4 linked regions of the Homo sapiens genome follow. The protein of the gene in region 2 interacts with the protein of the main gene of each other region in a biochemical or structural test. Each region holds a gene or a part of one and is shown on either strand. Other genes may lie near its edges. The genes, in order: EPS15, AP1G1, HEATR5B and SYNRG.

What was found.
Region 1: the proteins of AP1G1 (region 2) and EPS15 form a complex in vitro, tested with the Homo sapiens proteins (2 studies listed by BioGRID).
Region 3: the proteins of AP1G1 (region 2) and HEATR5B form a complex in vitro, tested with the Homo sapiens proteins (one study listed by BioGRID).
Region 4: the proteins of AP1G1 (region 2) and SYNRG form a complex in vitro, tested with the Homo sapiens proteins (2 studies listed by BioGRID).

The regions. Positions count from the first base shown.
Region 1 is NC_000001.11:51,354,461-51,363,299, forward strand, and holds part of EPS15 (epidermal growth factor receptor substrate 15), read right to left. Parts: intron 6,896-8,839; coding exon 6,711-6,895; intron 2,387-6,710; coding exon 2,240-2,386; 3' UTR 1-2,239. UniProt on the Homo sapiens protein: Involved in cell growth regulation. May be involved in the regulation of mitogenic signals and control of cell proliferation. Involved in the internalization of ligand-inducible receptors of the receptor tyrosine kinase (RTK) type, in particular EGFR.
Region 2 is NC_000016.10:71,728,088-71,736,926, reverse strand, and holds the end of AP1G1 (AP-1 complex subunit gamma-1), read left to right. Parts: intron 1-2,219; coding exon 2,220-2,318; intron 2,319-3,767; coding exon 3,768-3,869; 3' UTR 3,870-7,927; downstream 7,928-8,839. UniProt on the Homo sapiens protein: Subunit of clathrin-associated adaptor protein complex 1 that plays a role in protein sorting in the late-Golgi/trans-Golgi network (TGN) and/or endosomes.
Region 3 is NC_000002.12:36,979,292-36,984,108, reverse strand, and holds the end of HEATR5B (HEAT repeat-containing protein 5B), read left to right. Parts: intron 1-2,314; coding exon 2,315-2,619; 3' UTR 2,620-3,214; downstream 3,215-4,817.
Region 4 is NC_000017.11:37,535,335-37,544,173, reverse strand, and holds part of SYNRG (synergin gamma), read left to right. Parts: intron 1-1,608; coding exon 1,609-2,202; intron 2,203-3,630; coding exon 3,631-3,794; intron 3,795-4,928; coding exon 4,929-4,982; intron 4,983-5,753; coding exon 5,754-5,850; intron 5,851-8,046; coding exon 8,047-8,195; intron 8,196-8,839. UniProt on the Homo sapiens protein: Plays a role in endocytosis and/or membrane trafficking at the trans-Golgi network (TGN). May act by linking the adapter protein complex AP-1 to other proteins. Component of clathrin-coated vesicles.

The sequences.
Region 1 (8,839 bases), on a different chromosome or scaffold from region 2:
ATTACAGGCTACAACTTAGAGGTTTGAAACTTTAAGAGAAAATTCTATAAAGAGAGCTCAAATAAACATGAATCAGTATGTAGAAGACATTTAAAACTTTGTAAGTAGTGCCACTTAGCTCTGGGCAATACTTATCTGTCCTTTTCAAGCACAGGCCCTGGAGCCAGAGTCAACAACATAAAATACCACAAACGACTCTAAGACATTCATCCTACACAAGCGAGCACATATACATATATATTTATATAATATATACATACTTTAATATTATGTTGGTCCACGGGGTATACACATTTTAACAAAAGATAAAAATCTATGTAATCCAGTTAAACATACATAAGATTAGGATACATTTATTACATTGAAAGTTGGTGTTTATAAGTTATAGATATTTAATATTTGAGTTTAATTGAAAATTTTTTTGAAGCATTTAAACATTTGCTTATTTTCCCAGTGCAAAAGAAAGTTGTTCAAGTCAACTTACCTTTATCCTAAGGAGTAAGAGGAAGAAAATAAACAAAAATACCACCTATCACAACTCCCAGTCAAATTTTGCAGAAAATCCTTAGGTCACTGGATTCGTTTATCAAAATTAAGCCTTGTGATTATGATTCAGCCCTTGCTTCATATGTATGACTTTTATGCAGAAATGTTTCTATTTACAAAGGTAGAAAAAAGTTAGCAGTGCAAGATAGTGGTTTAAAGTTTGTTTTAAACTGTAGGAGTCTAATTGTGTAATGGAAAGAAAACAAAACAAGCACCATTTCAAGAAGAAATGAATTGGATATTTTGGAATTTATTTATAGGCTAGGCAATAAGTTACTCAGATTAACACAGATCAATACCACCTTGACTTGTTGACCCAGAGAATTCTAATTAGATTTTAGGTGCATTTTTCTTTATCTTGGTATTTAATACATCATCTAAGTCAGTAACCGTGTTAAACAAAATTAAAATGACAAGTTACAGCTTACTTCACAGTCTATTTCAAATTCAGCTTGTCCACTAGGTCAGTTTTACAGGAGATGGTCTTTTAACATGAAGAGGTCTGATAATCTGGCAGGTCTCTTCTCTCCCAATTAAAAAAACAAGAGTTTTTTTGCTAGCTTGACAATTTTATAGGTGAAAAACATGAAGTGAGTAAATAAACTAAACCACAAAGATGGACAAAAAGCAATATGATATAAAACACATCACTTTTTCTATTTGTATTCAGTGAAAGTTTTTACATTTCAAGTAAATGAGCCTTCATTAAAAAAAAAAAAACAAATATATATGAAAAATTAAAGTACCTTCCAGTTCTAGCTTGCTGAAGTTTCTTCTGCAAAAGTACAAAAATTAACCCACTAAGAACTAAACAGGACAGGGCCACGGCAAAGGCAGAATGGCTGCCATGTTAAGACTTTTGCTTGCCTTATACTGATGGGTATATTTTAGGTGATAAATTTTCTCCACTATCTATCACTTAAAATGAACATTTTCTTACAAACTTTATTTGTAAGAAACTGATTTTTATTAATTAGCAAACACACTGAGAGGTATCTGTTGATCTAAAATTCTCTAAATCCAGATAAATCTTTTTAAAAATTTATTTCACACATGAGGCTTTAATATTTTTAGTTAGGAAAAGATCGAATCTGAGGCTATAATGGTTCAACCTACAGCATCCCTTTTCCATAGTGGAGTAAATCTGTGCAAAATATTTTTCCTTATCTCTGAAAAACAAATTAAGTAGAGGAAATTTAAAAATGCACTTTAGCCAATTTGCACCAATCATAAAAGAAATAAGATATTCTTTCCCTTACCCTCACTCAACCATTCCAATCAGGGGAGAATACTGCAAACTTTAAGAACCTCACTGGCTATCATCAGAATAACTACAGAACAGGGTAGTGCAGGGTGAAACTATTTCTCTATATTCCAGAAGGCAGAAGCTTGGGTGCTCTAGCTTTACAAGTAAAATAGCACAGGCAGGCAAAAGCTCACAGTAAATGTATACCAGAACAGGGGCCTAAGTGAAGGTGAATTTGTCTGACTGGGTTACGGCTTTTATAAGAAAAAAAAAAAAAGACGAATCTGTAATGAAGAAAAAAAAAAAATCCTAAAATTTTGTCACATTTACAGGAATCTCAAACCTTTTGTATTCCCATGCTCACAGGTAGTTTTGATACACATTGTAAATAGTTTCAGTATTCAGGAAGAAGAATACTATATTGTTGCCAAAGAACAAGAGAATTCTTCATGCTTCTGATATCTCAGATTTGCTGAGTGCAATAGCCAGTTCTAAGTCTTCTTGTTCCTGCTGATTTAGTCGGGCAAGCCTCTGCTCTTCCTCTCTCTCACTTTCCCTCTTGGCCCATTCGATCATATCTTCTTCAGAGGGATACTGCCATTTAAAAGATCGATGAACAAACGAATAAATAAATGAGTAAAGCAAGTAAAAAGAAGGAAAAATAGTTTTTACAAAAGGACACCTGAAGGACTCTGGAAATAGTCTGGTTACTTGTTAATTCTTTTTTTTTTCCCCCTGAAAACATGTTTAATATTAACCAGTTATTAAGCTATAGTTTAATTTAAAAAATTAATTCAATCTATAGATAGAAAGTCTATAAAACTAAATGTTAAAAATGCCACTAGGCTAGATGTGGTGGCTCATGCCTGTAATCCCAGCACTTTGGAGGCTGAGGCAGGTGGATCACCTGAGGTCAGGAGTTCGAGACCAGCTTGGCCAACATGGCAAAACTCGCTCTCAACTAAAAATACAAAAATTAGCTGGGCATGGTGGTGGTGCCTGTAATCCCAGCTACTTGGGAGGGTGAGGCACATGAATCACTTGAACCCAGGAGGCAGAGGTTGCAGTGAGCCGAAAATGCACCCCTGCACTCCAGCCTGGGTGACAAAGTGAGATTCCATCTGAAAAAAAAAAAAAAAATATATATATATATATATATATATATATATATATATTTTTTTTTTTTAAATGTGATATATATATATATATATCTCACTAAAAAAAGTAGAAATGCTTATAGTAGATTAGAAGATTTAAAAACAGGACAGGGCTAGCCTTTTTGACCTAATGTAATGTAAAATATTTACCACTTCAACTTTACTGAGACCCTCACACAACAAATCATTTTTAATTTAATCCCACTGGTAGTTTCCTAACCCTTAATGTGTAAAAAAGCTAAGAAGCAAGAAAAAAAAAAAAAAGCTGATTTTGCTATACATCATATTAAAGTATTGGGTATACTAAGCAAGATGTGATTTAAACCTAATCTTTTTTTTTTTTTTTTGAGACAGAGTTTTCGCTCTTGTTGCCCAGGCTGGGTGCTATGGAGCAATCTTGGCTCACCACAACCTCCGCCTCCCGGGTTCAAGCGATTCTCTTGCCTCAGCCTCCCGAGTAGCTGGAATTACAAGCATGCACCACCACGCCCGGCTAATCCTGTATTTTTAGTAGAGATAGGGTTTCTTCATGTTGGTTAGGCTGATCTCGAACTCCTGACCTCAGGTGATCCGCCCATCTCGGCCTCCCAAGAACCTAATCATATTTTATAAAAAGCATTTTGAGCCAGGCATGGTGGCTGACATCTGTAATCCTAGTTCTGTGGGTGTGGGCCAATTGCTTGAGCTCAGAAGTTCAAGAAGTTCATCTTGGCAACATGGCAAAACTCTGTTTTTACAAAAAAAATTAGCCAGGTGTGGTGGTGCACATCTGTAGTTCCAGCTACCTGGGAGGATCACCTGAGCCTGGGAAGTTGAGGCTGCAGTGAGCTGTGATCATACCACCGCTCTCCAGCCAGATCGACGGAGTGAGCCAAAAAAAATAAAAATAAAACAAAAAGCATTATGAAGATTTCTCCAGGCTTTGGGAACTTTTAGACCAGTCTAAATAAAATCTTAACACTCATAATTATTATGTTGGGGAAATATTTTTATCTACCCCAAACAGCAACCTTGGCAAATACTAAATTAAAAATTCTAATTGGTTTCAAGTCTTGTTACATAGAAAATCCTTCATGAAAGGATGAAATAAAATACACTGTCAGGCTTTTGAAATGGTAGTTTTTTTCCCTAGGGAATTAAGCAAAACTTTGAAACGTGTAATGCTTAACCACATCTTTCACAATGAAAAAAGAAGATGTTCTTATTATAAGCTGTTTTTTATTATACTATATTGAGATTTTGGAGCAAAATGCCTCAGCTGTTGTTCAAGACTCCTTCCAACCAGATTTGTTTTTTTTTGTTTTTTTTTTTTTTTTTGAGGCGGAGTCTCGCTCTGTAACTCAGCTTGAGGACAGTGGCACTATATCAGCTCCCGCAACCTCTGCCTCTGGGGCTTAAGTGATCCTCCCACCTCAGCCTCCCTAGCTGGGATTACAGGCATGCGCCACCATGCCTGGCTAATTTTTGTATTTTTAGTAGAGACGGGGTTTCACCATGTTGGCCAGGCTGGTCTCACACTCCTGACCTCAAGTGATCCGCCCGCTTCGGCCTTCCAAAGTGCTGGGATTACAGGTGTGAGCCACCCCGTCTGGCCCCAACAAGAGTTTGACTTGCTAAAACCATACTTAAGATATTAAATGCCACAAACTACCAGAGGGTTATTTTACACTAAGAGAATTATAACCTTCTAAAAAGGCCAATTTTTGATTCTCTGCTTGAAACAAATCAAATTCCATCTAATGAAAGTTAAGTCGGGCTGGATGCGGTGGCTCACCCCTGTAATCCCATCACTTTGGGAGGCCAAGGCATGCACATTGCAAGATCAAGGGATCGAGACCATCCCGGCCAACATGGTGAAACCCCGTCTCTACTAAAAACACAAAAATTGGCTAGGTGTGGTGGTGCGTGCCTGTAGTCCCAGCTACTTGGGAGGCTGAGGCAGGAGAATTGCTTGAACCTGGGAGGTGGAGGTTGCAGTGAGCTGAGATTACGCCACTGCACTCCAGCCTGGCGACAGAGCAAGACTCTGTCTTTAAAAAAAAAAAAAAAAAAAAGGAAAGTTAAGTAAGGCTGGGCGCGATGGCTCACACCTGTAATCCCAACACTTTGAGAGGCTGAGGCCGGTGGATCGCCTGAGATCAGGAGTACAAGACCAGCCTGACCAACATGGAGAAACCCCGTCTCTACTAAAAATACAAAATTAGCCAGGTGTGGTGGGTATGCCTGCAATCCCAGCTACTCGGGAGGCTGAGGCAGGAGAATTGCTTGAACCTGGGAGGTGAAGGTTGTGGTGAGCCAAGATCGCGCCTCCAGCCTGGGCAATAAGAGCAAAACTCATCTCAAAAAAAAAAAAAAATCAGTATAATTCTGGCACTCCATTTTTACAATATTCAAAATATTGATTCCTATTTTGCTCCTTCATAGTCAAGAGAAGCCACCAGAACTTAGAGTACAGATTCAAAAGCTGGGAGCTCAGTCGTCTTAGTTGCATGCAGATTCTTTTTTTTTTTGGAGACAGGGTCTGGCTCTGTCACCCAGGCTGAAGTACAGTGGCATGATCACAGCTCACTGCAACCTCCACCACCTCAGCCCCCCAAGTAGCTGGGACTACAGGTGCTTAAAGCACTTTGGCCTCTTAAAATGCTGAGATTACAGGCGTGAGCCACCACGCCCGGCCTGCATGCAGATTCTTGACTACCTCCCTTCTAACTAGAAACAGCTGCAGGAATAAAGCAATTGGTTGAATGGCCCAATGCTACACTGAGGAGGGAAATATTAGGCAGAGTTACCTGGCCACTAGATCTATTTCCAAAATCATCTCAAGGGCATAAGGTGATAAATAGAAGAAAATCTCTGTTTTATAGAACAGGCAATGATAACGAAGGTTATTTTGCCTGAAAAAACTGTGAAACTGAAAATTTGTTACCCGGTCTAAGAATTTTATTAAAAAATAACTTTTTTTACTGAATAATGATGGAATATATGACATTGCTTTATGTCTCTCTAGACTGATACCTCCATGGTTGGTTGCCCCATTTCTGTGATTTTATAGGCCCTGCTTATGCTGTTATCATGGCACCCTTCCACTGTTTCTAACGATCTTCCTATTTTAGACATCTCTGAAAGAACGCAGAGTAAACATGAGAAGTTAGTGAATTAGGGCCCTCCAAATAAAGATTGTTTAAATCCTGACAACCATTTATTTATTTATTTCATAAAACTGGCATTTACATTTTTAAAAAGCTACTGTGTAAGTTTAATAGTTTTACTTTCTATTCAAAGAATCTCTGGCTCTATCCTCTCATATAATATTTGCTGACTGGTCTCCAGAAATCATTAAAACTTTATACACAAACACACATACACAGCTGCAAATACACAAACTTATTACTGGCATTATTCATCTAGTGGGCAGAGAGCAATGACTCTGTAATTGTTCATTAAATCACCATCACCCATAACCATCCACAAAATAATAACTGTTAGGATTTTACTTACATTACCAAGACTAAGAGAAAGATTTACAAAACAACTTGTGTATATGACAAGAACTGGGACTACTAAAATCATCTGTGCGATGGAACAACCGTAGAACTGTCAAAACAGGATCAAACAGAGGTTTTGCTTGGGGGAAGAATGAAAGATCATTTTTAGTATCTTGGTAAATTTAGTTAAAATGATGCAAACTTGGCAGACTCCAAAATAATCTCTGAAAACTCTTTAAAGATTTCTCCCCCAAACAGCTCATTCACAGTACTTACAGCACTGAAGTTGGCAAAATTGCTTGGATCAGCCTCTTTATTGGTAGTGGTAGTAGCAGAAGTGAATGGATCACAAAATATTTCAGGATCTTTTTCTTTGGGGCTATCGTTGCCTGGGAAAGGCTGAAATGGATCATTCAGTTTAAAGGGATCAGGAGAATCCAATTTGTTGATGGATCTTTTCCCTGGATCAAAATCATTACAATTAATTCAACCAGTAAATACAGCAAATACAAGCACACAAGAACATGTACACAGATAGCATTAAAGTACTGTGGGTAGAGGATGATTGAGTACCTAAAACACATTCTGAATATTGTCTTAAATAGCTACACCAACAATTTGTCCTCAAATTCTTCACACATGATCTCTCAAATAGATTCCAGCTATGTGCAGCTAATGAAACAAATAGCAAAGTAAGGATGGGCCAGGAATCATATTTTTGTCCAAAGACTGAATCCCACCATCCCCTAGCCACACCCAAGCAGCATGTTCCCAAAAGGAGAGACGAATGGATTAAACAGAAGGAGAATAATAAAGAATAAAGACAGAAATGGCCTGCCTCTGCTGTTACAGCCCTCAGCCTGATAACAGTTATCCACTAGTGGCAGTAAGAGCAAATGACCTCTGAAAACTGGGAAAATTCTTCTGATTTTTCTCTAGTTCTACATACAATACCTAAGAGCATAAAATTTTTAAATTACCGTAGTAAAATGCTGCCAATTTTTTGTTATTTACTGTATTTCAAAATGAAGAAAAAATGTTTTGAAGCCCAGGGCCTAAATCTTTGCGGTTGCTGATCAAATAATCTCTGACCAAACAATAGTATTCTGTCCTATTAGTCACTCACTAATTCATTACCATTTTCAAACAAGTTCTCTAAGTCTTACTTAAACTTAGTACTTCTTGAAGAAAAGATAATAAAAATAGGGGTCAAAATATCTCCAAATATATTTTTTTCCTAAAATGCATAAGCTGGTAATAGCAATCATAACAACAGATTCCATCACTGTAGCTGCTTAGAAAAGATGCTCATATCTCAATGGATTCTTCCAATAATCCTGTGAAAGTAGGCAAAATTAGAATTACTGCCAACATTTAATAGCCAAGGGTCAGATATATGAAATTATACACTTAAGATCATAGTTAGTCAGGGAACATCCAGAAACAGAACCCAGATATTTAGACTCCCAGTTTAGTGCTCTTTCCAACAAACCAGTCTTTTCCTTAATCTTTTTACAATGATATACAATTACTTGGATGAAGATTCTTAGATTGAGCAAAAACACTAGCATATTATTTTACTTAAGATTTAAAAAAACAACCTCACTATTGGCATCATGCAAGTTGTAAAAACTTAAATGTGCAAATTAACCATTATTTATTTTTAAATATATTCTGATAACCTCACTTCTAGAAATATATGACATAAGCTACCTTTCCTTAGAAGGAATCACTTAACTCATTTACCTGATTTTTCAACAGATTATCGGATATTTACAATTGTACATGCAATTCTTTCAGTCAAAGAAAAAAAACCTATCTGCTCAAGACCATGGAAAGGTTATGATGAAAAGGCAATATTAATCTGTAACTACTGAGACTGAAAATTTCCCAAGGAATGAGGTATGATTTAAAAAAAAATATACTAAGATGTGTCTTCTCACATAATACCCCAACAGCACTACAACTACTCAAGGAATTATCCTTTTAGCCACTTATTATGACCTAAAAACAAAACAAACTTTCCTTTGTATAGTGCTAAACATATACATACACACACATACTAATTATACATAGAAACAAACAAAAATAAGAAACAAATCACTATTAGAAAAGAGTCTTGGCCAGGTGCAGTGGCTCACACCTGTAATCCCAGCACTTTGGGAGGCCGAGGTGGACAGATCACTTGAGGTCAGGAGGTAGAGACCAGCGTGGCCAACATGGTGAAACCCCATCTCTGCTAAAAATACAAAAATTAGCCAGGCATGGTGGATCATGCCTATAATCCCAACTACTCGGGAGGCTGAGGCAGGAGAATCCCTTGAATCCGGGAGGCTGAGGTTACAGTGAGCTGAGATCATGCCACTGTACTCCAGCCTGGGCAACAGAGCGAGATTCCATCTCAA
Region 2 (8,839 bases):
ATAATGTATTTTCAACTTAAAATGTCATATTTTGCTGGGCGCGGTGGCTCACGCCTGTAATCCCAGCACTTTGGGAGGCCGAGGCAGGCGGATCCCACGAGGTCAGGAGATTGAGACCATCCTGGCTAACACGGTGAAACCCCGTCTCTACTAAAAAAAAAAAAAAAAAAAAAATTAGCCGGGCGTGGTGGCGGGCGCCTGTAGTGTCAGCTACTTGGGAGGCTGAGGCGGGAGAATGGCGTGAGCCCGGGAGGTGGAGCTTGCAGTGAGCCGAGATCACCCCACTGGACTCCAGCCTGGGCAACAGAGCGAGACTCGTCTCAAAAAATAAATAAATAAATAAATAAATAAATAAATAAATAAATAAATAAATAATAAATTAGCCGGGCGTGGTGGCGGGCGCCTGTAGTCCCAGCTACTCAGGAGGCTGAGGCAGGAGAATGGCATGAACCTGGGAGATGGAGCTTGCAGTGAGCCGAGATCGCACCACTGCACTCCAGCCTGGGCGACAGAGCGAGACTCCATCTAAAAAAAAAAAAAAAGTCATATTTTATAGGTTCTACTATGTACTAATTTCGTGTTTTAATGTTTCTAAAATTAGGATACATTTAAAAATTGGTATCTTGTCATAATTCAGTGGGCAGCATGTTTTCTATCTCAGTGGTACATAAAATAATGGTGTGAATTACGATTGGTATCTTACATTTAATGAAATATGGTAGTAATGAATAATACTTTAGCTTACATAATTTTAATGTGGCAGAATTATGAATAAGACCATATATATATATATATATATATATATATATTTTTTTTTTTTTTTTTTTTGAGATGGAGTCTCACTCTGTCACCCAGGCAACCTCTGCCTCCTGGGTTCAAGCAAATCTCTTGCCTCAGCCTCCTGAGTAGCTGGGATTACAGGCATGCGCCACCATACCCAGCTAATTTTTGTATTTTTAGTAGAGATGGGGTTTTGCCATGTTGACCAGACTAATCTAGATCTCCTGACCTCAGGTGATCTGCCCGCCTTGGCCTCCCAAAGTGCTGGGAATACCGTGCCCAGCCCCCAGTGTAATATATCTGTACATTGAGAGTGAATCTTCACTCTTGCAACTTTTGGCCCTAGAGAAGACTAGTGTCTCTCTCTCTCAAATATTTTAGAAGTTTAATCTACTTTTAGGAAAGATTTTCAAATGCTAGTTCATACAATAGCTACGTAGTACAGTATGGTTTACCTAGCTTGCCCTATATAGCACTTTTTTTTTTTTTTTGAGACGGAGTCTTGCTCTGTTGCCCAGGCTGGAGTGCAGTGGCACAGTCTCGGCTCACCACAACCTCCTGGGTTCAAGCGATTCTCCTGCCTCAGCCTCCCGAGTAGCTGGGACTACAGGCATGTGCCACCATGCCCAGCTAATTTTTGTATTTTTAGTAGAGACGGGGTTTCACTGTGTTGGCCAGGCTGGTCTCGAACTCCTGACCTCGTGATCCGCTCGCCTTGACCTCCCAAAGTGCTGGGATTACAGGCTTGAGCCACCACACCCAGCCAGCACTTTCAACTCTTATTTCTATAAGCAAGCAAATAAACCCCACCAGCATTCAACAAATTAATACTGTTTGGCTTATCTAGGTCTTTTGCTGTATAGGCTGGTTCTGCAAGTCTTTCCGTTCCTTCTGTCATGTGGAGAGGAGGCTCTGACACATTATAGATTATGCAGGCTTTAAAAAACAAAAGTTCAAGTCTCTGCATCCCAGTTATCCAATCACACAAAAGCCTAAAAGCTTATAGTTGGTGACCAGTATGTTGGTTTGCTATTTTTGGGAAGCTTTTCTTTTCATTTCTTTCTGGCTGTTTTTTAAGCCAAAAGCACCGATATTTTACTTGCATAGTTGATCAGTTACCATTAAGTGAAGTTGCCAGAAGAAGAATTGGTCAGCTTTTGAAAAGAGGTAGGCTAGAATTCCTTCTGCCAGAAAGGAGAATGTGGTTTATTACTAGTTGTCATGATCAAAGAACCGAACAGTGGATTTTTACAAATACCACAGGGAGTCAACTCACGTGCTGTGAATTCCTGATATCTAGAAAACAAGTAGTAGGCAAAACTTAGTAGTAGTGAAATCTGTTGCTTGACCCATCATCTGGGTGTCTAAATGGTTTTTGGTATCTCTGACCTAGCGTTGTGTAATTCTTTTTCTGAAGAGTGCCCTTTGTTCCCCCCTAGACATTCCAGCTGCAGCTCTTGTCTCCTAGCAGCAGCATTGTCCCAGCATTTAACACGGGGACCATCACACAAGTCATTAAAGTTCTGAACCCTCAGAAGGTGAGTAGCACATTTGTAGCCAATATCTGAGCCGAAGTGTAAGCATATTTCCCGAAATAAAATTCTGCTTTGTTTCTTTAGGTTTTTCTGACTCATAGTTAGAGAAGAGATCAATGAAAATGCCTGGTCTAACTTCCTTGCTCTTTTGTAAATAACAAATGGAACCCAGAGACATCAGGTGGCTTAGTGGCATCTTATTAAAATGCAACTTCAAAAAAAGCTAGATTAAAGGTCTGGTTTTTGGGGGTAGGGGAGAAGCTTAGACATTTTAATTTATACACAAGTTGAAATCTGAGGTAAGAGCATTTGTTGAAACCAAATACCTACATTTACTGCTACAGTTATTAAGTATGAATAGAAAAATAGAGGCATTTTAAATGAAGCAGCCAAATGAAAAATAGCTTTAGAAACTGAAATTAAGCAATATTTTTATTATCTCTTCTCAAAGAAATAAGCTCACCTTAATAGTAATCAGTTGGTTTTCAGTTTTTGAAAATGGTTCAGAGAATTTCTTTAATAGAGCTCTACTAGTTGCTCATAAGTAACAGTATACTTTCTTTCTCTTGTAACACTTGCCTTTCCTCTGCTATTCACTATATTTTGAGCATCGGCCTCTATAGTACAAGCACAAACTCCTTTGACCATCTGATACAGAGAGTAAAAAATGTCTTAGTGCATTTGTATTTGAAATCTGCCATACAAAAAGTGTCTAATTGAGTTCTCTTAAAACTACTGCTGTTACCTGTGAGTTAAGTCATTTTTTAAAATTTTATGCTTTAGGAACAAAAGGTCATGTTCACATTTACTGTAGGTTTTTCAGATAAAGCAACAGTGTATCTGAATGGAGAGCGTACGATGAGTATATGTTCACCTCATTTTTTAAGAGACTTGGATACAAGGTTTGAATCTTTTTGAAAAGGACTCAGCAAAATGTTACTAGGAGAATGCTCCATGGTGGCTCACGCCTGTAATGCCAGCATTTTAGGAGGCTGAGGTGGGTGTATTATCTGAGGTCAGGAGTTGAAGACCAGCCTGGCCAACATGGTGAAACCCCGTCTCTACTAAAAATAAAAATATTAGTCTGGTGTGGCGGTGAGCCAAGATTGTGCCACTGCACTCCAGCCTGGGCAATAAGAACAAAACCCTGTTTCAAAAGAAAAGAAAAGAAAAAATGCTCCCAAGGAGTTCTGTCCTTTTAATGCAGTTCAAGGATTAAAGCTAACCGTGTATTCTGCAGATGCGCTTTCTCAACTTGGTGGCATGACATTGTTAGCTTCTTGGCTCAAGCCTAGAGTACTGGGTGTTTTTTGTTGTTGTTTACCTGTCATTCTTAACAGACAGCTTTGCTTTAAGTTTTGACCTCTAAGATTAAAAGTCTATTTGTGGACCGGACAGATTCTGGAGATTTCATTTCAGTATATAATTTGCACTTCTCTTTTCCTCTTATAGCAACAGCTGCGAATGCGGATCAAGCTTACATATAATCACAAGGGCTCAGCAATGCAAGATCTAGCAGAGGTGAACAACTTTCCCCCTCAGTCCTGGCAATGAGGGTTTGGCACCATTCTCATTCTTTATCCCACTCAATCAAAGGAACTCTGGGAAGGAGGTTGTGATTGCTGGCAAGTCCCCCCCAACTGTACCACGGGCATGAGGAGCTGAAGAGAACTGCTGAGGAGGATTTTCCTAAAGTTACTGCTGACCTTGAAGCATTGTTAAAGACTAATGTCCTCTCCTCCACTGTTGAGGCTGGCTGCTTCTGGAGGCTACTTTGCACTCTTCCTCTTCTCCTTTTTCCGCACTTCTCCACCCCTCCCACATTTACAGCCAGAATCAACATTCCCTGGGCCCCTGAGGAAATAAGCAGCTGGTCTGGAGGAGAGGACTGCAATCCATGGCGAAAAAACACTCACTTTGTCTCTGCAGCAAAGAGTTGCCCCTTCTTTCTACTGTTGTTTCTCTGTGGACTGGGCAAGGTGGGGTATTTATTCCTCACTAGCTGGGTTACCATCTTCAGGCACTTTTAACATCTGGCATTCGGAATGGAAATGTAATAATGGACATTAGGGAGCCCTGCCTTTTTCTACTGGTTCCCCCAATGTTTGAAAGAGGCATTAGGCTCCTGGTAGCCTTTTCTGTGCATTGCTGTATACACACAGACACACACATGTATGTTTGTTACCAAGAACTGGTCAGACCTTGCGAGTTTATTTGTAAACACTGGACAGATGGAGTTAAAAAGAGCTTTTGTTGAGATTTGGCATGAAGGATATGGTGCTCTATTTGTAATAGAAACTTCCAAGGCTCTTCCAGCTCCCCTTTCTCGCCATTCTTTAGCTGTAGTCATGAATAGTCTCCATGATTTTCAAAATTGATTCCCTTTAAAGTGCAAAATGGTCACCTTCTAAAAGATATATTCATAGTTATTAATGACCCTATTCCCACCACAAATTTTAAAGTGCTCCTAAGCCCATAACTTGCCTGTTTGAACTATGGTAATGGGTGGAAGAGGAGTTCACCAGTTTCAAAGATCAGACTCTGTATCAAAAGTACCTTTGCCCTTAGGAAGAGTGAGTATTGGAGTCATCTTATCTATTACTCCAAACCTCCCTTTTTATTTCTTGAGCCTGGCTTGGACCTTGGCATTCCGTTTGAATTCCTTCTAACTGGAACATTTGTGTTGTATCTGTAACACTGGCACTGAAATAAAGACCACACGGTTAAAGAAATCTTTCCATATTGTACTTTATGGTGTTGGAGTGAAGCCTTGTAGCTTCCATACCCCTATGTCAGAGGAGGTCTTACGGACACCATAGGGTAGGAATAGCCTTTCCTCAGTCTGAGAAATTGGTCTCTTTTAAAAGACGAATCTCATGAATATTCACATCAAAGACTTGAGCTTTTTAAACTAGTGAGAGTGCCAAGTGCTTTTTAGAAAGGACCCATATGTTATCAAACTTTGAAATTGAGTTGCTGGAATGAAGTAGAGGTGACTCTCTCTGTGGTACACATTGAATGTACTATGTATGTTCAAGTATTCAGGCGCCATGTCTTATATACTGAAGAAAGAAAAAGTGAGGCCCACCTTGCTCTTACAATGTTTGCAATTGTTACTGTATTGAATACAGTATAATGACTACTATGGCTTCAATCTTAAACCTGGAAACAAATATCCCTTTTTTTCCCCTTCATTTCACCAAGCCTTTACTTAAAATCTTCAGTGTCTTGTCAAATCTAGCTCTGTATCAGATGCTGGAATATTCCTAACATTTGACAAACTGGAGTTGAACTAAAGGCTCCACGGGAAAGTTTCTGGTCTTACTAGTGTGTATGAGCAAGATCTGCTAAAACTTACTCCACTGGGTAAATGGTTGACTGAGTCAAGAACAGGATAATATCTCCTGCATAGTTTTCAGTAATGTAAGTGTGGACTAGTGCATATTTCAGACAACTGCTCTGCCTGTGCAATGAAAAATAGCCTTTAAGGGTTTCTTTGCAGACTGATTTCATTGGATGGATACTTAATGCTGTGAAACATGATAGGATTAACATAATGTTGGTGGATTTCTTGAATAGAATTTGTCTTAACATTCCTCTTTGTGTAGAGGCTTTATTTTCTCTCTTATATTTGTAGCTAACCAGCTCAGGTTTTTTTATTTGAACTGGGTTGAATCTCTGAAGAAATCTGTTCAAGACCATGCTATAAGACACTGTCAGCTAATGGAGCTGGGAAGGGTCTACTCTGCTGACAGAGCATTTCCTTGGGTGATCATAGTTTCGAGGTAGAGTTTATGATCATTCATAGCTTTGTCTAGAAGGAGTAAAATATCATGGCCTTAACACAAAGGGTGCTGCGTAGAATATGAATTGATTTTGGAATCAGAACACAAGCACCATACTGAAGGACTAGCAGCCAAATAACTGCCTAGGATACTGATGGTTGTGAAGACTGTTTCAAATGATTGGATCTTTGAAAGCTTCAGCGTGCCTTAGTTTCTAGGATCAGAATTAGTTTTCCTCTCACTTGGCCTTGCAGCTAAATGGAGAAATGTTTCAATTTCTTTGAATACTTGCACATTTCAATAATTCCTTTCCCGAGTATAACCACTCAAGGGGGAGCAAATTTGGATGGATTTACGACTTCACAGGCATTGTGAGGAAAGAGCATTTTCCAAGGCTGTTTTGATAACCCTGGGGTGATAAGCAGTGAGCCCTCACACACTTACTTTGACAATTTCACATGCACTTGTACTTCATTATTTCCCTCTTCAAGAGTCGTTTCTATTCTAGTTTCTGCCCCATCCCGGGGAATCCTAAAGGAGAATTAATTCATCTAAGTAATCTCAAAAAACTGTAGGAAGGGTGCTCTCCCTGAGAAGCTTCTCCCACAGTGCTTTGGTGCTGTTACCTTGAGGTGGTTTGGACAGTCACGGAAGTTTTAGGCTGTGCATAGTGATCATCTGTTAATTTTAAGGTCTTTATCATTTAAAGAAACATTCCTCAGTGTAACATTTGGGAGGGGATTCTTTCCTCTTGCTAGTTTAAAGGTGTGATTTGTACTCCTTGTTTGTCCCATTCATATATGAAAATAGACTTTTAAAACTGTCCAACACTAATGGTTTATATAACATGCTTCCCATTTTTTTTATGTCGTAGAAATTGGAAGTTAGGGAGTACTGCTTTCAAGGTTCAACTTCATTATCTTCTGCATTGGAAAATATTTGGGCCATGAGAACTAGGGGAAAGGAGTTTGAATGTGTCTATTTTTTTCTAGTGAATGTATTTTAACCACAGTGTCCTAAACTGAGAAAACTAGAGAGGAAAAAGTGGGTGTTCATGAACTTTGTAGTTGGGAGAGTGGTTTTACATGTCTGTGTATTCATGACTTTGGGAGTGGGTAGGATCATTGGAGAGAGAATTGCACAGAAAGTCCTGAAGTTTAAAACACTTTTGACCAGCTTTGGCTCGGGAGAGTGGGGCTGCTTGTAGAACTGGAAGTGAATAACTTTTTCAAGCAATATCAGTGAGTGGGTCCCATCGACAGGGTTCCAGGACCTGGAACACTTTAACAGAAGGAAATGCCGAAGCAGCTTGCACAGTTGCTTTACAGACTTCCAAGAGGCTGATTCTGGCTTCAAGATGGAGCCTTGGAGTTGGTTTTTTTTTTTTTTTTTTTCTTCCCTCAAAGAACCTGCGGTTGCGCTTTGTGTGTTTTGTTTTTGTTTTCCATTTGGGGGCCCCATGGGAAAGAGCTTCTGAACTCTTTCCTTTATGAACTCCCACTGTGTTCCTATAAAGGCCCTTTTCTTTCTTAGTGTTGTAAGTTACATTTTCATTATGCCCCATCACATCTTCTTTACTGTAAAAATATTAAAAAGCTGTTTCCAAGTGGGACAGCTAATGAAGCTCTAATTATTGCAGACATATTTTTGAGATGTAAAAAAAAAAATTTAAAGTTAAATGATAAGTCTTAGAGGCGAGTGAGGAATAAAATGGATGTAAACATTTACATGGGATGCATTAGAATTCTGCTGTGTGTACTGTCTTTTGGTTGAAACAAATTATGAACAGTGACTAATAATAAAAAGTCAATACCCAATGATTTAAAATTTGCTTCCTTGCTTCTTACAATTGGATTAGAAGACTTAGATGAATTCTTATTCCAGAGGTTGAGCTAACTTACTGACCTGTTAGTATTCCTTTCACACATAAGTCTCACCAAGAGAGGAATTTGAATCACTTAAAAACTTGTAGCCAGGCGCGGTGGCTCACGCCTGTAATCCCAGCACTTTGGGAGGCCGAGGTGGGCGGATCACCTGAGGTTGGGAGTTAGAGACCAGCCTGACCAACATGGAGAATCCCTGTCTCTACTAAAAATACAAAATCAGCCACGTGTGGTGGCGCATGCCTGTAATCCCAGCTACTCGGGAGGCTGAGGCAGGAGAATTGCTTGACCACAGGAAGCGGAGGTTACAGTGAGCCGAGATCACGCCATTGCACTCCAGCCTGGGGTGACAAGAGTGAAACTTCATCTCAAAAACAACAACAACAACAAACTTGTGTTATAGACAGTAAAAAAGTCCTAAGTGCAATTGGACATTTTAACTATAATATGATTAATTTCATGCTTAATCTCCATAGGTCAATTCTCAAGGCAGAGAAACCAAGATGAAATGTATATTAAGGGTGGTTATGGGTTTTCTTTATAAGCTGCTTTTTGTGAATTTTTCAAGTGTATCTGTGACTGGGCAGAGGAAGGCTTGACCAGTCAAAATGAGTTATATTTCATGGTCTATTTTATATGAACTGTGTATTTTGTATATATTAACTTTTGTAGGGATGTGGTCTTGCTATGTTGCCTAGGCTGGTCTTGAACTCTTGGCCTCAAGCAATCCTCTTGCCTCAACTTCCCAAAGTGCGGGGATTACAGGCGTAAGCCACCGCACCTGGCTTGTCTTTTTTTAAGACAGAGTCTCGCTGTGTCACCCAGCTGGAGTGCAGTGGTGCGGTCACTGATCACT
Region 3 (4,817 bases), on a different chromosome or scaffold from region 2:
CCTGCCTCAGCCTCAGGAGTAGCTGGGATTACAGGCGCCTGCCACCACGTCCAGCTAATTTGTTATATTTTTAGTAGAGATAGGGTTTCACCATGTTGGCCAGGCTGGTCTCGAACTCCTGGCCTCAGGTGATCCACCCGCCTCAGCCTCCCAAAGTGCTGAGATTACAGGCATGAGCCACTGCGTCCGGCCTCCAGTTATATTTTAAAATTGTTAAAACCAAAACCTTAATTTTCAACCTACTGTTGAAAACCTACTATTGAAACCTCTTCCAATTTAGCAAGCCAATATACTGAAGATAATTTTATATATATTTTATAATTCTCTACTTTATTTTTATTATGAAAGCCAGCTTTTATAATACTATTAACTTTTTTTTTTGAAAGGGAGTCTCGCTTTGTCGCCCATGCTGGAGTGCAATGGCACGATCTCTGCTCGCTGAGACCTCTGCCTCCCAGGTTCAAGCGATTCTCCTGCCTCAGCCTCCAGAGTAGCTGGGATTACAGGCATGTGCCACCACACCCAGCTAATATTTTTGGGTTTTTTTGTTTTGTTTTGTTTTGTTTTTTGAGACAGAGTTTCGCTCTTGTTGCCCAGGCTGGAGTGCAATGGCACGATCTCGGCTCACCACAACCTCCGCCTTCCAGATTCAAGCGATTCTCCTGCCTCAGTCTCCCTAGTAGCTGGGATTACAGGCATGCGCCACCATGCCCGGCTAATTTTTTTTTTTTTTTTGTATTTTTAGTAGAGATAGGGTTTCTCCATGTTGGTTAGGCTGGTCTCAAACTCCTGACCAGGGGATCCGCCCACCTTGGCCTCCCAAAGTGCTAGGATTACAGGCATGAGCCCACCGCGCCTACCCCTATAATACTATTAACATTGTACATGAGGGAAATTGAACTAAATCTAGAAGATTGGAGGATTTACCTGGGACTTTAAAAATAAGCTTTTTACCTCTTTTCTGAAAACTTAATATGGAAACAAATCCATTTAATTGGAAACTTCTGGGTAGTTGCCAAGAGAAAGAGTATGTATGTTTATTCATTCAAAGCATAGTTACTGGATGGCTGTGTACCAGGTAGTGTTCTAGGCATTGAGAATTTCTCGTGAAATAAAACAGGCAAAGGTCCCTGATCTCATGGAGCTTACATTTCTGGTAGGAAAACACAGACAATAAACACTTCTCGTCCCCTATACGTGTGTGTGTGTGTGTGTGTGTGTGTGTGTGTGTGTGTGTGTGTGTGTATCTGTGTCTGTTATATGTAGACATGTATCTTTGTGCAATTTTATATAGTGATGATGGATATATCAATTTTAGATGTAGATATAACATCTATAGTTAGATGCAGGAATTGATAGGAGCTGTGAAGAAAAAAATACAGCAGGGAAAGAAAATAGGGAGTAAGGTCCAGGGTGGAACTGGGATTCTGGAAAGGCTTCACTGATTATTATCACTGTCCTTGCTGACATCAGTGAGTGTCACACATTCTCTACCAGATGCTTCCTCCTGCCTTACAATTGCGTCAGTTGTCATTCTACAAAAATTAACAGTAATTAAGGGGGAGAACGCGTAATTCTCAATGTGATTATGAGATGTTATACACACACACAATTACATATAAAGGTTAATTGTTAAAAAAAATCACCTTTAATGAAACTTATATCCCAGGATGGAGTTGTTAATATAAGTAAAGACAAAAGACTAACAAAAGGAGATGAAGCCTCCAAATAAATACTTTTTTAAGGACTTGGAATTTATATCAGTCGGACATAGGTTCTTGTTTTTTTAACCCTAAGCTTATGTATTCCCTTAGTTTTGAGGAATTTCCCCTCACTGTGAGTTTTGGGGGATGATGAAATAGGAAAAAAGTTGTATTGTATTTCTACTTAAAGAGGAAAGAAACAACTAGTGTTAGTTAAATAATGGTAAATAGATGCTTTTCAGGTTTCTGTTCCTCACTCCAATCTCCTGATTCTAGAATGCCCGTAAAAATTTTATAATCTTACTCTCAAGATACATTCTACCAGGTGGCAATTGTAAAGTGTTTTATTACTTTTTAACCTTTGGCCCTTTTTTTTTTTTAAGTAAAGCAAATTAATATAAATGTAAAATATACAATATTAACAAACCTGGTTTCCAGCTTGTACATTTAGTAAATATTTAATATTAATTACGAGTTATTGAGGTCTAAAGTAGGCTGTGCATGTGTACTTATATTTTATTATGTTCAGTCTTCCATGGCAATTGCCTAGTTTTTAAAGTTTATTATAATCCTTATGTTTGTGATCTTTTTTCATACTTTATTATTTACAGGAGTCCAGCTACTTGCTCTTTTAGTTCCCACTTTGATATCTTACCTGCTGGATGAAAATTCTTTTGCCTCAGCAAGTTCAGCTTCCAAAGATCTTCATGAGTTTGCACTCCAGAATTTAATGCATATTGGACCTCTGTATCCACATGCTTTCAAGACAGTAATGGGGGCTGCTCCTGAGTTGAAAGTGCGTCTAGAAACTGCCGTTCGAGCAAGCCAAGCGAGCAAAGCTAAAGCGGCTGCCAGACAACCAGCCCCCGCCATACATTCTGCACCAACAATTAAGCTAAAAACAAGTTTTTTTTAATTTGTAATTTCATTTATTTGTATTTATGTTGTCAACTAGCCCCTAATTAGTGATGGCCACTGTATCATTCCAGGCTACCTATGGGTTCTGTTTTATTTGTATATTGGTATTATAGTGCTTCCAAGTAGGTTAAGTGAAATAATGCTCACACCACTTATTGATTTTTAAGGAGTGATTTTTTTTATCATGTGGTGAATATGTTTTCATTTTCCTCCTAATAATGTTTCTCTTTTGTTAACTTATTTATTTTTCAAACACTGAGCCATAGTCTTAAATTTAAATGCTAAAAACAATTGTATCATGTAGTCGGGCAGCCTATTGATACTGTCAGGGGAAAAAAATGGGTCAGAACTCAGCATCTGTCATGAAAAAAATCAATTGAAAAACAAGCAGATTTTAAATTTTGAAGTAATCAAAATAATGGAAAGTGTCTGTTTTGTGGTGTATATACTATGAATAAAATCACAGCATTTTCTAAGCATTTCCCAAAATGTCCTTATCTTTCTGATGGATCTTTTAGCTTTCATATCAAATTACTAAATTATGCTATGTATATTTTAGTTGGTAACAATTAAAATTCTCATTTAAAGGTTCACTAAAATGTTTAAATGTAATATAATATTCTGCTTTTTTTAATGGCTAAAATTTGGCTTCAGTTATGTTTTGTAATTACAGAACCTCAAGTTCTGGCTATGATGGTTAGTTTCCTTCATCAAATATTTATTGAATGCCTACTGTGTATAAGGCATCAAGCTAAGTGCTGCAGGGGATACAAAAATGAATTAGGCATAATTACAGTGATGCCATTCTTTCATGTAGTGGGCATTTTACCGTACGAAATAGATAATTCACACAATGAATGTTTGCCACAGCATTTAGCAAATTTTAAACACCAAGTTTTACCGCACAGTGTAACAGACTGAACAAGTATTATCAAAAGCAAGTCACTTTCTGAACATTTATCTTCTTTTCTCTTTTCCTTTCTTTTCCTTTTTCTTTTAGAGACAGAGTCTTGCACTGTTGCCCAGACTGGAGTGCAATCATAGCTCACTACACTTGAACTCCACTCAGCCTTTTAGATACCTGAGATAGGTACTTTGTCTTGCCTGTTTTCTCACTGACTTTTGGGTGTTTTTTTCTTTTCTTTTTTCTTTTCTTTTTTTTTTAGATGGAGTCTCTCTCTGTCGCGCCCAGGCTAGAGTGCAGTCGCGCGGTCTTGGCTCACTGCAACCTCCGCCTCCTGGGTTCAAGCAATTCTCCTGCCTCAGCCTCCTGAATAGCTGACATTACAGGCACCCGCCACCACACCCAGCTAATTTGTATTTTTAGTAGAGACGGGGCTTCATGTTGGTCAGGCTGGTCTCGAACTCCTGACCTCAGGTGATCTGCCTGCCTCTGTCTCCCAAAGTGCTGGGATTACAGGCGTGAGCCACCATGCCCAGCTTCTTTTCATTTTTGTTTTGTTTTGTTTTGTTTTGAAGCAGGGTCTCACTTTTGCCCAGGCTGGAGTGCAGTGGCACATGACCACGGCTCACTGCAGCCTCAATCACCCAGGCTTGAATGATCCTCCCACCTCAGCCTGCCAAAGTGCTGGGATTACAGGCGTGAGCCACCACACTTGGCGCTGGTTGTTTTTTCATTTCAGGTTTGCATTGCCACAATTATTCTCCTTGGTTTTTGTTTTTGTTTTCGCTAACAACTTCATGGAGATCCAGTTCACATACCATACAACTCAATTCAGTTTGGGCATGGTGGCTCACACCTGTAATCCCAACACTTTGGGAGGCTGAGGCCAGGAGTTTGAGGCAGCCTGGGCAACACAGCAAGTCCTCATCTCTACGTTAAACAAAAAGAAAATTAGCCAGACGCAGTGGTGCACTCCTGTAGTCCCAGCTACTCAGGAGGCTGAGACAGGAGAATTGCTTGAGCCCAGGAGTTTGAGGCTGCAATAAATTGTGATCATGCCACTGTATCCCAGCAAAGTGTACAGTTCAATGGTTTTTAGTGGTGCCACCATCACCACAATCAATTATGAACATTACCCCAAAAAGAAACCTTGTATCCTTTAGCTATCCTCCTACCATCTCCCCATTTCCCCCCAACTTAGGCTACCACTAATCTACTTTCTGTCTCTGGATTTTCCTCTCATGGACATTTCATATAAATTGAACCACTTAATATGTGGTTTTTTGTGACTG
Region 4 (8,839 bases), on a different chromosome or scaffold from region 2:
AACTAGTGTTTTTTGTTTTTATTATTCACTTAGCACCCCTTTCCTAACAGCTCAAAGAAAGAGAGATTTGGATTATACCATTAGAAGAGCTATGGAAATGTCAGGAGCTTCTTACCCCTCATAAATTATGCAGTATTGCTGTGAATGAAAGAGAAGAATGACTCCAAGTTGGTTCACTTATTGACTTAGTTCTGAAAATCTAGGTCATAAAACTTTTGAGCACTTTCCTTGTAAATCACATATGTGGTTGTCAGAGGGAGAGTCTCATATTTGGCCTTCTTGCCTCATGTACAGTGACTACAATGAAACGAAATGCATATCAACCCACTTCTCCACACCAGCCAAATTCAGTCTCGGCTGGTTTTGCTTTCTGAAAATGAGCAAGAAAATTTTCTCCTAGTAACACCACTAAAATGCTGAGTTGACTTTTCATTTTTGCTTTGAAATTCCACTGTAGGCCCTAAAGCAGCAATTAACTGTCAAGTTGAGGCTGGTGGCACCTATGCTGAGCAGACACTAGCTATTATGTATTGCTCACCAGGCACCAACCTGGCCTTTTACACACATGATCATGGTTGATGGTCATAACACAGTCCTTCCAAGTACATGGTCTTCTCCTCTCCTCATTTTACTGATAAGCAAACTGAGGTTCAGAAATGTTCAATCATTAGCCTAGTGTCATACAAATAGTAGGTAGCAAGGTTGAACTCAGGTCTTTCCAAATCAAAAACCTACATTCTTTATGCTGTTTTATGCTACCTCTTAAATTACTTAACTATATATTAAGAATGCTTTGTAAAATCAGTCGTCTGCCCCAGCAGTTCTTTCTTTTTCTTCTTTCCTTTTTTTTTAAAAAATGGGGAGTAGATACATAGTTGAAGGAAAAAGTGGAGCCCAACAGGACCCAGATCTTTTTATTGTATTTTTTTAAGGGCTAAAGTAGATCAGATTGATTTTCTTTCCTCATACTTCATCACAGCAATATGACGTCCAATTTGACCAAAATAACAACTAGGTAAGTAATTGCTTGATTAAAATCTCATGTTTGGCATTGCCTGAGACAGAAATTCTAATAATTGATAATATTATGACAGAAACCCTAATAATTGATTAAAAGTTAGATGACATTATTTTCATTTTAGTTTTGAGAAACTGTCAACTTTTAATTATTTTGCCATGTGCATTTCACATGACCATGTTTTAAAGGCACATTTTCCAACAAAGTCAAGATGAAGGGAGACATGTTTTAGGCAAGGAATATCAGTACATTTTTAAGTTGATAAGGGAACAATTTATTAAATGACCCTAATCTTATATCAAACAGTGTATACTTTGGTAGATGAACCTCCTATCTTTTTTTAGTAATTTTTATAGCCAAAGAAAATGGTTCTTGGTAACTAAATGTAAATGCCAACTCAAGGCTAATGTGGGTTTTTTTAAGATCAGATTTTACAGCCCAACTCTTAATTTTAGTACAAACTCTAAATTTAGCTAATTTCAACATAGTATAAAACTAATCAAATATGCTAGGCATTTTGCTTCTACAGAGTTTAGGGCATTTTGCCTAAATTGCTTGCCTCTAATTGTGGGGTCTTATTTCCCTTTCAGATATAGAGGACTTAAAATATGCTGCTTTTGGAAGCTACAGTAGCAATTTTGCAGTGAGCACACTTACAAGCTATGACTGGTCAGACAGGGATGATGCAACTCAGGGCAGAAAACTCTCTCCATTTGTCCTCTCAGCAGGAAGTGGATCCCCCTCAGCCACCTCAATTCTTCAAAAGAAAGAGACTTCATTTGGCAGTTCTGAAAACATCACCATGACATCTCTCTCCAAAGTAACGACCTTTGTAAGTGAAGATGCTCTTCCAGAGACCACCTTCCCAGCTCTTGCCAGTTTTAAAGACACGATTCCTCAGACCAGTGAGCAAAAGGAATATGAAAACAGAGACTATAAAGATTTCACAAAACAGGACCTGCCTACGGCTGAACGGAGCCAGGAGGCCACGTGTCCCAGCCCAGCGTCCAGTGGTGCCTCTCAAGAAACCCCGAACGAATGTTCGGATGACTTTGGAGAGTTTCAAAGTGAAAAGCCCAAAATCAGCAAATTTGACTTCTTAGTAGCCACTTCACAAAGCAAAATGAAATCCAGTGAAGAAATGATCAAAAGTGAGCTGGCAACCTTTGACCTTTCTGTTCAAGGTGAGTAGCTTCCAAGGTAGATTTTACTATTGTGGTTTTTTTCCACTGAGATGTTAGATGTTCTTAAGAATAAAATGTTGCTCTCTGGTTTCGCAGGAAATAGATTGTTCTAATCTTTGAAATCAGGGTCAATTACAGATAGCTATAATAAAGATTTCCCTGAGACGGGAGTCAAAATCAGCATCCCTCAGATAACTGCTTTATGGGCTAAAAACAAGCACAGCATGCAGGTATTGCTCATTAGCTCGTTTGGTTAGAGGTGTGCTGTGTTAAAAGAGCCAGATAAATGGATTCGAGCCACTTGTAGGCACATTAGCTCCGCTCATGTTCCCTGAGCACAGATAATGTCTTTTAATCCAAAGGTTGCAAAGTGGGGGCCGGGGATCTGCATCTAGCCTGCATATCACATTGACCCACACAAAAGATTTTTAAGTACGAAGTAATTGCCAGTATTTAAAAGACATGAGATTTCCCAATCTGGATTTCCAACTTTTCTTGAGAAGTCATAATATCTGGCACTAGTAGGTCTACAGTCCCATATGTTGGCAGCTGGAGCCGAAGAGCACCACTCCCTGTAGGTGGGTCATTCTCTCTCTCCTACCATAATCCCCACCGCTTCCTGTCTCAGCGGACCTACTTAAGTTGTTCACTTTACTTGCCTGGTCTCTGAAGGCATTTGAGTTTGCCTCTTCTGCTTTAATCTCATCCTGACAGGAGGGGTCGTTGATTTCAACTGGATTGAGAGACTGTGAAGGAACTCGGTTACAAATCCATAACAAATGACTGGAAAAGCCACACAACTCTTACATACTGATATTTAGAAAGGTGCTTTTGTTCTCCAGACTCCAGTGATTCTGCACTGGGCATTATGGAAGACTTGTGATAGATCAGAGAAGAGTCATGTTGAAAACGAAACGCAGGGAAACCGTGCAAGAGAGAACAGTAGAAAAGATTTAACATGTAGCTTCCCAGAAAGAATGAATGAGGAATGTGTTTGTGAATGCCTCATGACATAAGCATCTGAAGAAGAGGGTCGTGGGCTGGGCGCGGTGGCTCACACCTGTAATCTCAACGCTTTGGGAGGGGAGGCAGGCAGATAACTTGAGATCAGGAGTTCGAGACCAGCCTGGCCAACACAATGAAACCGTGTATCTACTAAAAATACAAAAATTAGCCAGGCATGATGGTGTGCACCTGTAGTCCCAGCTACTCAGGAGGCTGAGGCAGGAGAATTGCTTGAACCCAGGAGGCGGAGGTTGCACTGAGCCGAGATCACACCACCGTACTCCAGTCTGAGCGACAGAGCAAGAATCTGTCTCAAAAAAAAAAAAAAAAAAAAAAGAAGAGGGTTGTGGTAGCGAGGAAGAGCCTCTGCCTGAACTAAGGTGAGTAGCCAAAACCTTTGACTGTATTATCCCCTTCTCCCAGGATCACACAAGAGGAGTTTGAGCCTTGGTGATAAAGAAATAAGCCGTTCTTCTCCTTCTCCAGCTTTGGAGCAGCCTTTCAGAGACCGTTCCAATACTCTGAATGAGAAGCCCGCCCTGCCCGTCATCCGAGACAAGTACAAAGACCTGACGGGAGAGGTGGAGGTGAGAGGAGAGCTTTCTACAAGGGGTGGGTAACAGACCAGCAAGCACACAGGGCCCCAAGAAAGAATGCTGTCAGCTTTCACATGGGGAAAATGAGGGGCAGAAAGACACAAAGCACCAGACATAAACTATGTAATTAAAGTGAGGCAAGGGTAACATTAGCCCTGGGTGAAAACATTTCCCAGGTGTGGCACCCACTGAAACTAATCAGTGACCCTAAAACCAAAACTATTCATGGGACTTCACAAGGATGGCAGTGTTTGTATAATTCTTCTTGAGCACTTAGACTTTATTGTCTTCATGAAACCTCAAAATAGAGGAGACAGGGAAAATATTCTGAATTTTTTATTTCTGTCTGCTGCATCTTAGTGCCACGCTATGTTCCTCCTATGGTCAACACACTTAATTTCCCACCTTTCCCTACTCCTTGTTACATGTGCACATGGGCCACGTCCTCACACACAGCCACACAGCGTTATAACTGGGGCGTGGAAAGCCAGTGGCTTAATAGCAGTTTCTGTACCAGATAGCTACATGCTGAGTGCCTCCGAAGAAAGGCTTACACTGTTACTGATGGAACAAATGAGGCAACACTCACAGGGGGAAGCTGCTGGAAAGCATGTCCCTTAGACTCACAGGTCCTGTGCTCAGAAGTTACATTTATTAGTAATTTAACATAGTTATTAGTGAGTTCAAAAAGATAAACTGCGGCTGGGCATGGTGGCTCATGCCTGTAATCTCAGCACTTTGGAAGGCCAAGTCGGGCAGATCACTCGAGCTCAGGAGTTCAAGACAAGCCTGAGCAACATGGTGAAACCCCACCTCTACCAAAAATACAAAAATTAGCCTCATGTGGTGGTGCGTGCCTGTAGTCCCAGCTGCTCTGGAGGCTGAGGTGGGAGGATTGCTTGCGTCCAGTGCAGTGAGCAGAAATCATGCCACTGCACTTCAGCCTGGGCAACAGAGCAAGACCCTATCTCAAAACAAAAACAAAAACAAAAAAAACATAAACTGCTTGAACTAGAGTGATCGTAATAAAAAGGAAAGTCCTCCAAGCACTTTGAATTGACAGAGTCATCAATAGAAGATTCCAGGTTTGTGTGTTTAACCCAGTTCTTTTTAACAAATTCACAGGAAAATGAGAGATATGCATATGAATGGCAGAGATGCCTGGGGAGTGCCCTGAATGTGAGTATGTCACTTACGCGTTCACACATATGTGAGTGCTCTTTTGTGCCTTTTTGCCTTCTTGGTTCATTTGAATTGACAGAGGCAAACTTCAGGAGAGCCTTACTTGGATGTCCCTGGGCAAAGAGTAACTCTGTGGAAGTCATGCATCTAAGGTGAGGCTTCTTTCACACTTACAATAGCAGACCGGCTCATGTGTCAGTCATCCCCTCATCTGTCATTGTGTTTAAGAAATAACAAAGTGATTTCATTAACTCTGACTAAATCAAAATAATATTTAAGCTAAAGAACCTGTCTTGGCTGGGTGCGGTGGCTCAACACCTATAATCCCAGCACTTTGGGAGGCCAAGGCGGGCGGATCACGAGGTCAGGAGTTTGAGACCAGCCTGACCAACATGGTGAAACCCTGTCTCTACTAAAAATGCAAAAATTAGCCAGGCGTGGTGGCACGTGCCTGTAATCTCAGCTACTCAGGAAACTGAGGCAGGAGAATCACTTGAACCCGGGAGTCAGGGGTTCAGTGAGCCGAGATCTTGCCACTGCACTCCAACCTGTGCTACAGAGCGAGACTCCGTCTCAAAACAAAGCAAAACAAAACAAAAGGAAAAAAACATATTTTCTCTTCCAGAGAAATGGAGGATTGTTTCTTCAAGGATAAAATGAGATTTTTTGACACCTCCTGGCTTTTCGGTTGGGTTTTCTACTAATAGTAAATTGATTTGCAATGACTTTTCTCAGTTATGTAAGGTGATGTGATTTCATTTCTTGTAGGTCATTAAGAAGGCAAATGATACCTTAAATGGAATCAGTAGTAGTTCTGTTTGCACAGAAGTAATTCAGTCAGCTCAAGGCATGGAATATTTATTAGGTATGTTCTTTCATATTTTACTATTGAAAATGATGGCCCTTTGCATTATTTTCAGTTTTCCCTTTAATTATTTTAAGCTAGATCTCTCAAGTTACATATGACTTCAGTAAGAAGCATCTGTATTTGTGGGTAAGACACTCAAGCTACAGGCAGTAAACTATTGGACTTAATTAAAAAGTCTCTATGGCTAAGTTTCCTCATCCTTGTTATATACGTAATAGCAAAAATGTAAAATTATATCTGTGTTACTGGTTTATCAAAGAATCTGAACTACCGATGCACTAAAGTAAAATCATCTTGTCTCCCATCAATTCCTTACCATACTCTATATTCTTTCTCTCGACCGCTTAATGACACCACAGAGTCCTTAACCTCCTGGCCATCTGCAGCAATTTGATGTGTCAGTCCAACGGGAAAGTGTAGTCTCTGTCCACTTCGGTGTTCCTCCCTTCCCCAAGCTCAGGCTTGGCCCGTGGCCAGAGCCACACATGCTGGACCCTAATCTTTTTCAAATCTTTACTCAAATGTCAGCTTCTGAGTGAAATCTTTCCTAGCATCCATCTCTCCAAAGAGTATCGTCTCTCCCTACCCCGGTACTTCCCATCCCATTCTCTGCTGGATTTTCTCCTTAGCCCTATTACCTTTAATTTCTTACATATGTTACTTATTATTCTTTTCTTTTCTTTTCTTTTTTAAGACAGGTTCACACTCTGTCACCCAGGTTGGAGTGTAGTGATGTAGTCATGACTCACTGCAGCGTCCACCTCCCAGGCGCAAGCAATCATCCCACCTCAGCCTCCCAAGTAGCTGGAACCACAGGTGTGCACCACCATGCACCCAGCTAATTTTTGTAGTTTTTGTAGAGACAGGTTTCCGCCATGTTGCCCAGGCTGGTCTCGAACTCCTGAGCTCAAGCGACCCACCCACCTTGGCCTCCCGAAGTGCTGGGATCACAGGCGTGAGCCACTGCACCTAGCTACTTGTTGTTTTTACTCTCTGTCTCCCTTCACTAGAATGAACCTCCAAGAAGGCAAGGATTTTGGTCTGTTTTGTTCACTGGTGTGTCCCCAACACCTAATCTAGTGTCTTGCACGTAGTTGGCACTCAAAAATATTTGCTGGATGAGTGGAGAGTGAAGGGATGTAGTCTCTGCCTTACTCCTGCCACCTCACTTGGGGTCTTCTTTTCCTGCTCAAACAGGCACAGTTCTGCATAAGCAGATGTCCACCAGGAAATGGGGCACCTGTCTTTTCTCCTAGTATCCTTGTATCTATGGAAGATTCTCTTAGAAGCCCCCTCACTTGGCTTAGGGTGGGCAGTAATTTCTGCCCCTCTCTTGGGAAAGGAAGAAGAAAAGCCGTAGTGCTGACACAGGGCTGCTGAGGCCCCGCTCTGAAGATCCCCTGGAATTCCTCCAGTGTTCACTTAGAGAGATCGGGGTCATGTCTTTGGTGACTGTTACATTGCAGGGGTTAGGGATGTGTCTGGTGGCTGTCCTTAGAATGTGGAGGTACTTAGCACCTCTCATCCTTGCTTCAAGAGTTCAACCACAATTTAGAGACCATAGGAAAAGAACTGTTCTGCATCCTGTTATGTGTTTAAAGATAAGTGAAGTCAAAGTGTTTGTAAGACCTTCAGATTCAGAGGGGTGAGATGTTTCTTCATTACTTTGTGATGCTATTAACATTTAGATTCTTTTAAATTTTTACTATCCCCATTTTCAGCTAGTTTATTGGGATTTCCCAGATTCAAACAGATGGACTCATAAATAAACCTCCCAAAAAACAAAAGCTAATAACTTGCATAGTGCCTGCCATTCTCCAAGCACTGTTGTAAGCCTTTTACCATATTACCCTATTTAATCCTCTCAACCATCCTTGGAGGAGCTACTGTTACCATCCCAACTTCACAGATGAGGAAACTGAGGTACAGAGAGATTATGTGACTTGCCTAAGGTCATGTAGCCAGTAAGAGGCATAGCTGGGGTTTGAACCCAAGCAGTGCAGCTTCTATGCTCTTACCAGTAAGCTATACAGCAGCATTGAGAAGTGGATTGGTCCCAAAGAATAGTAAGTACACCTCTGTCCAGATACACCCATTGTTTCTCACAGATATCAGCAAGCAATAATGCTCCCCTGTCTGGGTCCTCTGTGTCTCCACTGCCAACACTCTCTCTCTGCTCTCTCATCCCGTCAGGTGTTGTTGAAGTGTACAGGGTAACCAAGCGTGTGGAGCTGGGGATAAAAGCCACTGCAGTGTGCAGTGAGAAACTCCAGCAGTTGCTGAAGGACATCGATAAAGTATGGAATAACCTAATCGGCTTCATGTCACTCGCCACACTCACAGTAAGCCCATGAGACAACTCAGCAGTTGCTTTCCTTTCCAGAAACCTAAGTTGTAAAGCAGAGTGTATATTCCTATGATGGTACTTATTAGAGGCTGGAGGTGCCAACTGGAGCATGTTATATTAAAGGAGGGAGATCACAGGTGTGTGGTCAGTTGAACAGTACCAGGTGGGCTTCTGATCTCTCTAAGGCCCAGTGAACCTAAGGAAAAAACCAGTACAGGAAAACATTCACTCTGGCTACACCTTTCTTAATTCACATAATACACGGAAGTTTTGCAAAGCAGTGGTTTGAGATACTCCCTTTGCACTTCTAGTTATTTATGTCCCCATACGTGTCCTTTCAAAAAGCTATATGATACCTCATGTTGCCATCCTGTAGTTTGTTTAGCCCTTCTTTTTTTAGGTTCTTGGGTCATTTTCATTTTTCCCTGTTACGAGTAGTTCTCTGAATAGACAAATCACTGTTCCTTTGTGGGGATGTATTTCCTCCAAGTGAACTAGGAGGTCAGTGTGTGTGTCTGCACAGGTGCATGCATGCGTATGTAGCTGTTGTTACATTTATTAGAAGGCTTTCCAAATAGCTTATATTGGTTGCAATGCTACCAGAAATATGTAAGTACATGGATACATTTCTCTACATTA